3 linked regions of the Homo sapiens genome follow. The protein of the gene in region 3 interacts with the protein of the main gene of each other region in a pairwise test. Each region holds a gene or a part of one and is shown on either strand. Other genes may lie near its edges.

What was found.
Region 1: the proteins of TSPAN7 (region 3) and SMO interact in a two-hybrid assay, tested with the Homo sapiens proteins (one large-scale study listed by BioGRID and IntAct).
Region 2: the proteins of TSPAN7 (region 3) and CCR2 interact in a two-hybrid assay, tested with the Homo sapiens proteins (one large-scale study listed by BioGRID and IntAct).

What each region holds. Positions count from the first base shown.
Region 1 is NC_000007.14:129,202,005-129,205,658, forward strand, and holds part of SMO (protein smoothened precursor), read left to right. Parts: intron 1-618; exon of another isoform or gene 619-732; intron 733-1,379; coding exon 1,380-1,585; intron 1,586-3,198; coding exon 3,199-3,408; intron 3,409-3,605; coding exon 3,606-3,654. UniProt on the Homo sapiens protein: G protein-coupled receptor which associates with the patched protein (PTCH) to transduce hedgehog protein signaling. Binding of sonic hedgehog (SHH) to its receptor patched prevents inhibition of smoothened (SMO) by patched.
Region 2 is NC_000003.12:46,359,253-46,361,571, forward strand, and holds the end of CCR2 (C-C chemokine receptor type 2), read left to right. Parts: 3' UTR 1-424; coding exon of another isoform or gene 425-608; 3' UTR 609-1,688; downstream 1,689-2,319. UniProt on the Homo sapiens protein: Key functional receptor for CCL2 but can also bind CCL7, and CCL12. Also transduces signaling mediated by CCL13.
Region 3 is NC_000023.11:38,560,175-38,564,440, forward strand, and holds the start of TSPAN7 (tetraspanin-7), read left to right. Parts: upstream 1-1,367; 5' UTR 1,368-1,372; coding exon 1,373-1,453; intron 1,454-4,266. UniProt on the Homo sapiens protein: May be involved in cell proliferation and cell motility.

The sequences.
Region 1 (3,654 bases), on a different chromosome or scaffold from region 3:
TGGGAACTGTTGCCTGAGGACATTGCTTCTTAACTGGCAGGAACTTGCTCTGCACCCTGGAATATACTCTGAAGGCTGGGAGCAGTCAGAGGCCTCAGACAAATAATCATAAGAGTTAACATTTCCTGAGCGCTTACTACATGACAGGTACTGTGCCAAGGGCATTTAAAGCATTATATCACTTTTCACAGCAGTTCCATGAGGTAAATCTATCATCCCCATTTTACAGATGAGGCAACTGAGGCTAAAGATAAAGTACTTTGCCCAAGATCATACAGCCAGGAAAGAGTGGAGCCAAGATTTGGACCCAGGCTGGGCAGTTGCCATGCACATGCCCCTTACCTCTCTACTATGTTGCCTTCCCCCGAAAAGAGTGGTTACCTGTCTCTACCACCCCCAGCCTGGAAATGTGACCGGCACCCATGTTGGCTCTCACATCCTCATATTCTCTCCTAATGCAACTTCTTGCTTGGGAAATAGATATTGCTGAAGCAGGGTTGATTCAGGAAGGGCTTCTGTGATGGGCAGGGCGGAGGACTAGGCTGGGGACGGGTGCTGGGAGATTGCCGCCTGTTTCTGTCTTGCTGACAACATTTTTCCCCTCTCCGCACTGGACAGAGCCTCTTCTGTTCCTCTCCATCTGACTTCCTGCTTCCTCCTCTGGCTTTGGAGTGCCTGGCTCCTCTGACTACCTCTTCTTAAGCCCCCATCTCTTCTCTCTCACTCCGCTTGGTAAGAGGAACAAGGGTTCTGGGGTCTGGGCAAAGGGAAACATCTCCTGGCTCTAGCAAATGGGCCCCGTGAGAGTTGGGTGCACCCCTGAAAAGGTAAATCCACCCCGGGGAGCTCTACCAGAGGCATTACCACTCCCTAGCAGGGCATCTGGAAGTGGCAGTTATTTTCTTAAAACTTAAATGATAGTAAGCATACAGAATAGCGCACAGATCATGAGCTTGGTTTCCACAAGGTGAATACACTCATGTAACCAGTATCAGATCAGGAGATAGAATATTCCCAACATCCCATGTAACCAGTACCAGATCAAGAAGTAAAACATTCCCAGCAGCCCAGAGGTTCCTCTCCAGGCTCCCTTCTAGTCACCGTCCCTAGAGTAGAGGGCTGGGGCATTTTTGTTTGTCACAATCACTTCTGGGTTCTACTGGCATTGAGTTGGCAGAGTCTAGTGTCTGCAATGCATGGGACAGTCCTATGGTATAAAGAACTGTCCTGCCCAGATGCACTGTTGAGAAACACTGTACCTGCCAGGTCTGACCAGTGATGGGCTGCAGTGTGGCAAAGGCCTGGAGGACAGGGGTGAAGCTGCGTCTGTGGGTCAGAGTGAGGAGGGGCCTTCACTGCAATGCTGTTGCCACCCCCAGGCCTCCGGAATGCCCCCCGCTGCTGGGCAGTGATCCAGCCCCTGCTGTGTGCCGTATACATGCCCAAGTGTGAGAATGACCGGGTGGAGCTGCCCAGCCGTACCCTCTGCCAGGCCACCCGAGGCCCCTGTGCCATCGTGGAGAGGGAGCGGGGCTGGCCTGACTTCCTGCGCTGCACTCCTGACCGCTTCCCTGAAGGCTGCACGGTGAGTGCTCTGTGAGACAAGGTCCAGGCTCTCTGGGTTGGGCAGGACCGGGTATAGGGCAGGGTCCAGTGGGGAGCAGGGGAGCCCAGAGCTTTGTCTCCTGGAGACCCTGAGCCTACAGCCATGGGGTCAACAGGACACAAACTCAAACTGCAGCTCACTGGCTGGATCCGTCTATTAGGGATTCTCTATTTATTTATCAATGATCACATGTTCAGCAAAATGTTTTGAGCACTGGCTGTTGGGTGTTGTGGTGTTACGGGCATCACGGATGACAGGAGCCTATCAGGAAGTTTCTCATGTATGTTGGGAGTTAAGGCGCGAGCGTGTGAAACAGCTAGAGCCACCAAGACAGGGGACGTGAGCTAGTTCTGGGTGGTGCAGGAGAGGTCTTCAATGAAAATAATAACAGTAATAATGATGGTAATAATACTAATTAGTCCTGTTTACTATATGCCAAATGCCATTATAATAAGCTCATGCCTGTAATCCCAGCACTTTGGGAGGTCGAGGTGGGCAGATCACCTGAAGTCAGGAGTTCCAGACCAGCCTGGCCAACGTGGCAAAACCCTGTCTCTACTAAAAATACAAACATAAGCCTGATGTCATGGTGTGCGCCTGTAGTCCCAGCTACTCGGGAGGCTGAGACACGAGAATCGCTTGAACCCGGGAGGTGGAAGTTGCAGTGAGCTGAGATCGTGCCACTGAACTCCAGCCTGGGCTACAGAGTGAGACTCTGTCTCAAAATAAATAAATAAATAAATAGGCTGGCCAGACACAGTGGCTCATGCCTGTTATCCCCACCACTTTGGAAGGCTGAGGCGGGTGGATCACTTGATGAGGTCAGAAGTTCAAGACCAGCCTGACCAACATGGTGAAACTCCGTCTCTACTAAAAATACAAAAAATTAGCCAGACATGGTGGTGGGCACCTGTATTCTCAGCTACTTGGGAGGCTGAGGCAGTAGAATCGCTTGAACCCGGGAGGTGGAGGTTGCAGTGAGCCAAGATTGTGCCATTGCACTGCAGCCTGGGCGACAGAGCCAGACTCTGTCTCTCTCTTTCTATATATATAATATATGTTTATTCATTTAACCCTTAAACCATACCATAAGGTAAGTACTACCATCTTAGAAATGGGGAAACTGGCCGGGCGCAGTGGCTCACGCCTGTAATCCCAGCACTTTGGGAGGCCGAGGTGGGTGGATCATGAGGTCAGGAGTTCAAGACCAGCCTGGCCAACCTGGTGAAACCCCGTCTAAAATACAAAATTTAGCCGGGTGTGGTGGTGGGCGCCTGTAGTCCCAGCTACTCGGGAGTCTGAGGCAGGAGAATTGCCCGGGAGGCAGAGGTTGCAGTGAGCTGAGATCACGCCACTGCACTCCAGCCTGGGCGACAGAGCGAGACTGTCTAAAAAAAGAAAGAAAAAAAGAAAGAAAGAAGTGGGGAAACTGAGGTACAGAGAGGCCAAATAATTTGCCAAGCCAGCCCTGGGATTCAGGTCCTGGAAGTGTATCTCCAGCCACCCTGCCATGCTACCTAGATACCTTTCCCTAAACAAGAGGCTCGTCCCTGAGCTGCCTTGACACCGTCTTTTCCCATCCCTGGTGCCAGAATGAGGTGCAGAACATCAAGTTCAACAGTTCAGGCCAGTGCGAAGTGCCCTTGGTTCGGACAGACAACCCCAAGAGCTGGTACGAGGACGTGGAGGGCTGCGGCATCCAGTGCCAGAACCCGCTCTTCACAGAGGCTGAGCACCAGGACATGCACAGCTACATCGCGGCCTTCGGGGCCGTCACGGGCCTCTGCACGCTCTTCACCCTGGTCAGCCGCGGGAGGGCAGGCCCGGGGGGCCCTCAGCCTGGAACGTGGGAAGAGAGCCAGAGGGAAGGGGGGCAAAGAGGTCTTGGTGGGGGTCCCCAGGGAAGGGTCATGATCAGAAGGGTCTGGGGCTCAGTTAAGGGTGTCTGTGTCAGCAGAATAACCCTAACCTCACAGAATGGCCCACTTCTCTCTTCTAGGCCACATTCGTGGCTGACTGGCGGAACTCGAATCGCTACCCTGCTGTTA
Region 2 (2,319 bases), on a different chromosome or scaffold from region 3:
AGTTTATCTATGGCACCCATGCACCTTACATTTGAAATCTATGAAATATCATGCTCCATTGTTCAGATGCTTCTTAGGCCACATCCCCCTGTCTAAAAATTCAGAAAATTTTTGTTTATAAAAGATGCATTATCTATGATATGCTAATATATGTATATGCAATATATATAGGCTCTTGCTTGATCTCTCCAGGAGGTAGTGATTATGAGAAGGGGGTGGAGAATGATGAGTTCCTTCACCAGGAGCAAAGGACGGGGATCGTGTGGAACCACTGCAGAACTATTTCCGAAATCAACTAAGTGGAGAGAGCCAGGAAGGCTGCATCAGAACCCAGTAAAGCTTCTTGTCTGGATCTGAGCTGGTTTGTTTTGTGCTTGCTTTTCCCTGCCTTGCCACTCCCCTCACTCTTCTCTTTTCCCCACAGCCTTTTTCACATAGCTCTTGGCTGTAGGATTGCCCCACTCCAAAAACCAGTGTGTGGAGGTCCAGGAGTGAGACCAGGAAAGAATGTGAAAGTGACTACACAAGGACTCCTCGATGGTCGTGGAAAAGGAAAGTCAATTGGCAGAGCCCCTGAAGCCAGTCTTCAGGACAAAGAAGGAGCCTAGAGACAGAAATGACAGATCTCTGCTTTGGAAATCACACGTCTGGCTTCACAGATGTGTGATTCACAGTGTGAATCTTGGTGTCTACGTTACCAGGCAGGAAGGCTGAGAGGAGAGAGACTCCAGCTGGGTTGGAAAACAGTATTTTCCAAACTACCTTCCAGTTCCTCATTTTTGAATACAGGCATAGAGTTCAGACTTTTTTTAAATAGTAAAAATAAAATTAAAGCTGAAAACTGCAACTTGTAAATGTGGTAAAGAGTTAGTTTGAGTTACTATCATGTCAAACGTGAAAATGCTGTATTAGTCACAGAGATAATTCTAGCTTTGAGCTTAAGAATTTTGAGCAGGTGGTATGTTTGGGAGACTGCTGAGTCAACCCAATAGTTGTTGATTGGCAGGAGTTGGAAGTGTGTGATCTGTGGGCACATTAGCCTATGTGCATGCAGCATCTAAGTAATGATGTCGTTTGAATCACAGTATACGCTCCATCGCTGTCATCTCAGCTGGATCTCCATTCTCTCAGGCTTGCTGCCAAAAGCCTTTTGTGTTTTGTTTTGTATCATTATGAAGTCATGCGTTTAATCACATTCGAGTGTTTCAGTGCTTCGCAGATGTCCTTGATGCTCATATTGTTCCCTATTTTGCCAGTGGGAACTCCTAAATCAAGTTGGCTTCTAATCAAAGCTTTTAAACCCTATTGGTAAAGAATGGAAGGTGGAGAAGCTCCCTGAAGTAAGCAAAGACTTTCCTCTTAGTCGAGCCAAGTTAAGAATGTTCTTATGTTGCCCAGTGTGTTTCTGATCTGATGCAAGCAAGAAACACTGGGCTTCTAGAACCAGGCAACTTGGGAACTAGACTCCCAAGCTGGACTATGGCTCTACTTTCAGGCCACATGGCTAAAGAAGGTTTCAGAAAGAAGTGGGGACAGAGCAGAACTTTCACCTTCATATATTTGTATGATCCTAATGAATGCATAAAATGTTAAGTTGATGGTGATGAAATGTAAATACTGTTTTTAACAACTATGATTTGGAAAATAAATCAATGCTATAACTATGTTGATAAAAGATTTAAAAACAACTGGCTGTTTTTTTACACTGTGGTGTGGAAGATTGTGTTGTGTTCACAACTTTTCACTTCTTCCCCTGTGTGATTACACACACCTGCCCTTGTGGTGTGACTTGCAGTGCGCCCTACAGGCCACACACCCCACGCCCTCCACCACTGGCTCTGCTGCTGGAATGTGAGCAGAAGTGACATCTGCCTCATCCAAGCGGAGCCTCTTGCTCAGCCACAGGAAGGCCCATTCCAGATCACACCCGTCAGCCCGTGCGCCCTGGTGAATGAGAAGACACAGGGAGCTGCAGCCACATATAACATGAGCAAGAAGTCTGTGTTTGCTGTGATAAGCCACTGAGTTTTAGGGGTTGTTTGTTAAGAAGCACAAAAACCGATTAAGACATGTGGTATATAGTGACTTCATATATAGAATCTGGAAAACTATCCATTTATTTTCAATCATGGAATTCAATATGACAAGCATCCCGGAGGGTCTACCTATGCCAGACTGGGTTGGAAACAGAAAGACAGATGTTAATGCCAGTGTCCTTTACACCTCCAAGTCCAGGGCCAGCTGTGGAGTGGGAGGGGTAGAGAAGGTCCTGTGCACAGTCACAGTGCGCTGTGCAGAGCAGGAACAGAGGCATCTGTG
Region 3 (4,266 bases):
TTCTAGAACATTCTCATTACTCTAAAAAGAAGCCGCTTACCCATTAAAAGTCACCTCATTCCTGCCTCCCACTCGCTGCAACCACTAATCTCTTTTGTCTCTATGGATTTGTCTATTTTGGATATTTCCTATACATGAATCATTCAATATGTGGTCTTTTGTGTCTGGCGTCTTTCGCTTAGCATATTTTCAAGGTTCATCCACGTTGCAGCATTTACCAGTAGTACTTCATTCTTTTTTGTGGCCGAATAATTTTCCGTTGTATGGAGGCACCGAATTTTGGTCATCCACTCATCAGCTGACGGATATTTGAGTTGTTTCCAATTTTTGGCTATTGTGAATAATGCCGCTATAAACATTCATGTATATGGTTTTGTGTGGGCATATATTTTCATTTCTCTTGGGTAAATACCCAGGAATGGAGTTGCTAGATCATATGCAAACTCTGTTCAACTTTTTGAGGAACTCCAAATTGGTTGTGAACATTATTTTTTGACCTCAATGCAGCTTTCCTTTACAGGAGGGAGGTGGACTGTACTTGTTAGCGCGCTGCAAATGATTCTCAGGCATATTAAACATTTTTCTGTATTCTGTTAAACATTGTATGCGCAGCAAGAATGACGCCTCATACAGACCTTTCTTGTCATTTCGTTTTATTATTTCAAAATGTAAGACAAATCTGAAAAATGGAGGAGCCTGCAGATACCTGTGGTGGCGAGGATTTGGGGTCTGTCTGAGCTCCGGCGTTCCTGCCCATCCCTCCAGCTGTATCTCTGGCCACCTGTCTGTTCCTGGCACAAACAAGGCCTGCTGGTTGCCAAGGACATGACTACGGGGCCATTTCCATGTGAGAAGGCCCTGGGGGGTGTCAAAATGCAGAAACGTGACTGATGGGCAGCGGGGCACCCATAAACTTCCCATAGCCAGGTGCAGGCATACCTGCAAATGTAACGCCCAACTGTGTACAAAGCAGAAATCTAAATGCCAGGGCGGACTGGGAGAGGTTCCCGTGACCTCTGACCCGGCCTCTAAATTCTCCCATTCCCTCCCCACTGTCCTGCCGCGCCCCGTGTCGCCTCGCCTGGCCTCGCCTGGCCTCGCCTCCCTCCTCCGCTGGGGGTCTAAGCCTGCGCAGTATTGCGAACGCGGGCGGCGTTTCCCGCATGCGCAGTCACTGCCCGGCCCGGCTTTTTCAGTAGGAGCCCCGCGCGGTGCGCGCTCACGCACGCGCACGGCCTCGCCTGCGCGCTCACGAGGCCTCTCGCGGCACGCGCCCCCGCCCCGCGCCGCCCCGCCCCGCCCCGCCTCTTCCCCCTCCCGCGCGCCCGCCCGCCGCCTGCCGCCGCCGCCGCCGCCGCCGGAGCTCTGTAGTATGGCATCGAGGAGAATGGAGACCAAACCTGTGATAACCTGTCTCAAAACCCTCCTCATCATCTACTCCTTCGTCTTCTGGGTAAGTGCCCACGCCGGGCCGGTGGCCGAGTCGCTGTCCATCGGTCCGTATGATGATGCTCTGAGAAAAGAAGTGGGGAGGAAAACCCAAACCAAAAATCAAATCTGGGACCCCTCTTTAAGGAGACAGGCGCGGGGTGCTGGGTCGGGGCTGCAGGATGGCAGGGTGCGGGTCGGGGCTGCTGGAACCCTAGACCTCGCTCCGCGCAGGCTGCAAGGGGCTGCGGAGTGTCGGTGACTGCAGGTTGTCGACCTTCCAAAAAAAAAATGTTAATGCATTAGTTTCTTTTATAATCTCCCGGGATAGGGTCAGCTCCTGGGGAAAGTTGCGGGTTTATTCGTCTGTTTTCCTCGCTGTACACCTTTCTCTCCCTTCCCCTACCAGCCGGTTCGCGGCGCCTCTTGGAGCTAACCTGTGGCGGGCTAGGAGAGGACACGGGAGCGTGGGGTTTAATCTCAGATTCCCAGTTATTCCTGACCCCACGGGGCTGCGGGAGGGAGGCACCAGAAGCACCGTGCCTGCCTGGCTGGGCAAGGGCGACCGAAGTCTCCCAAGCGCACGATGGGGAGCAGGCGTTGTCACCGCGTGGAGGCGCACGAAAGGGAGAGGGTCTTACATAAGCCGGGGGCATCTTTGAGGTTTCTTGGTGACCCAAGAGATGAGTCTTTGGATTCCTTTCCCACCTCCCTGCATCCTTACACTCCCTATCTGGTGGTTCTGTCACTGCATGAGCACAATCCGCAGCGCCCTGGCAGAGGGTCCCCTCCACTTGGTGATAGAGATAGCGCCCCAACTCTACTCCCCATCTATCCAGTGCTGCCGCCGGTCCTTGAAGCTCAATGCAGAAGGGTGACGTCACCCCTCAGCCAGGGCCGCGGGGGGCTGCGTGGTGCACCTCGCGGAGGGATGCGCCTTTCTGCGCGGGGGAGGGGGGAGGAGGAGGAGGGGGAGGAGGAGGAGGAGGAGGGGGCTCCAGGCTTGTGCCTTACCTCATCCTGTTTGGCAAATCATGGAATCAGTGCAGGGCTGACACTGCAGTGATTCACTGAGAGAGGTGCGTGGTACTTAAAGACCATTCCCTGTTATTTCTCTTTTCATGTCGGTGACCCCGTCTTCCCTAGTTCCTTACGCCCATAATCAAGCTACAGCTACCCCGCAGGGGAATGAATATCGACCCTCTTCCCCCCTTGTCCCCCAAATCTGGGTCATTTTAGCTTCTACGGCAGTCATTTTGAAATCTGAGGCTCTGTAGGAAAAGCCAGTTCAACCTTTGCTTGTTTTCTTCTTGCACCCCTCACCCCCGCCCCTCACCCACCACCATATATTAGCCCTATTTTTGCTTTGAAACTGGAGCACAGTGCTGTATGAGGTACCGAGAATCAGCTAGATGGCAAACCGGACTGTTTGCAATGGTCAAGGAAGAAGCAGAGATTTATTGAGGATCAAAAATATTCCTAATGCACCCGGACATTTCCTTATCGCTGGCGTTGGTGGTTCTTCAAGTCAGGGAAGGTATGGACTCCCCAGACCACACATACCAGGAGCTCTGCAATGAGCTAGGATAGATTAACTGGCATATTGCACAAGGCAAACACAGAAACGGACTTTATTTGGACTGACAACGACACAGGTTGAAATGTCTCAGTAGTGGAATTGTGAGCTATGCACAGATCATATCATCTTATGCTCTGCCTGTAAAAAGCAGTAACACATGCTGATTGCTGAAACTTCCCAGTAGCCATTCCTGGGAACTGGTTTAGCTTTTTATGTGTTTCCTTAAATCTCTTTTTGTTTGGCCCTTTATCATTTACTTGACTTCCTATTTGTTACTGGAGTGAATCATATTGGGAGGGGGGAGGTATTTTTATCTTCCTTAAAAATAAGGTTAACAGTGCACATGAAGAAATATTGTTCTTTCAGAATCACTGCAAGCTGGTAAAGAAGGGGGTCTTCCAGGCTGAGGCTTTTCATATGAGCACTTTAACTCTCCTTGCTTACATTCCACCCCTATGAATCTAATTACTTAATGCCCCCAATACATCTTAAACAATCACTGCATTTTATGTCCTCCGGAAGTTCCTTGATGCCTTCATTTTAATTTTTTCTACTTTCAAGATTTTCATAGTCTTAAATGTTAACCTGGAACATTTTCAATAGTTTAAATACCAAAGCCAGTTCTGGCTTTGGTTGTTGTAATCATTTCATACTTACAACCAAAAGAATAAGATCTCTTCGGATGTGTGAGGATATTTTAAACAAGACGTTATTTTTAAGTAGCCTTATTGAGGCATGATTCATATGCCATAAAAGCCACCTATTTAAAGTATACGATTCAGTGAGTTTTAGTATAAGTAGCACATATTTTAGTATATAAGTGGTATATATTTCTGTATATTTAGTATATTCATAGATATGTGCAACCATCACCCCAGTCAATTTTAGAACATTGCATCATTTCACAAGAAACCTGTTTCTTTAGCTGTTATCCCGTTTACCCCCCAATTTCAACTTCCCACCCTCATGCCCACCCCCTGCCAGCCCTAAGCAACCACTACTTTCTGTCTCTAGAGATTTCCATATTGCAGGCATTTCATATAAATGTAATCATACAATAGTTGCCCTTTTGTGACTGTTTTTTTCACTCAGCATAATTACTTCAAGGTTCATCCATGTTGTAGTGTATATCAGTACTTCATTCCTTTTTATGGTTGAATAATATTCCATTGAATGATTATAGCACATTTTGTTTATCCATTTGTCTGTTGGGGGACATTTGAGTTGATTGGGTCATTTAGCTATCATGGATAATGGTG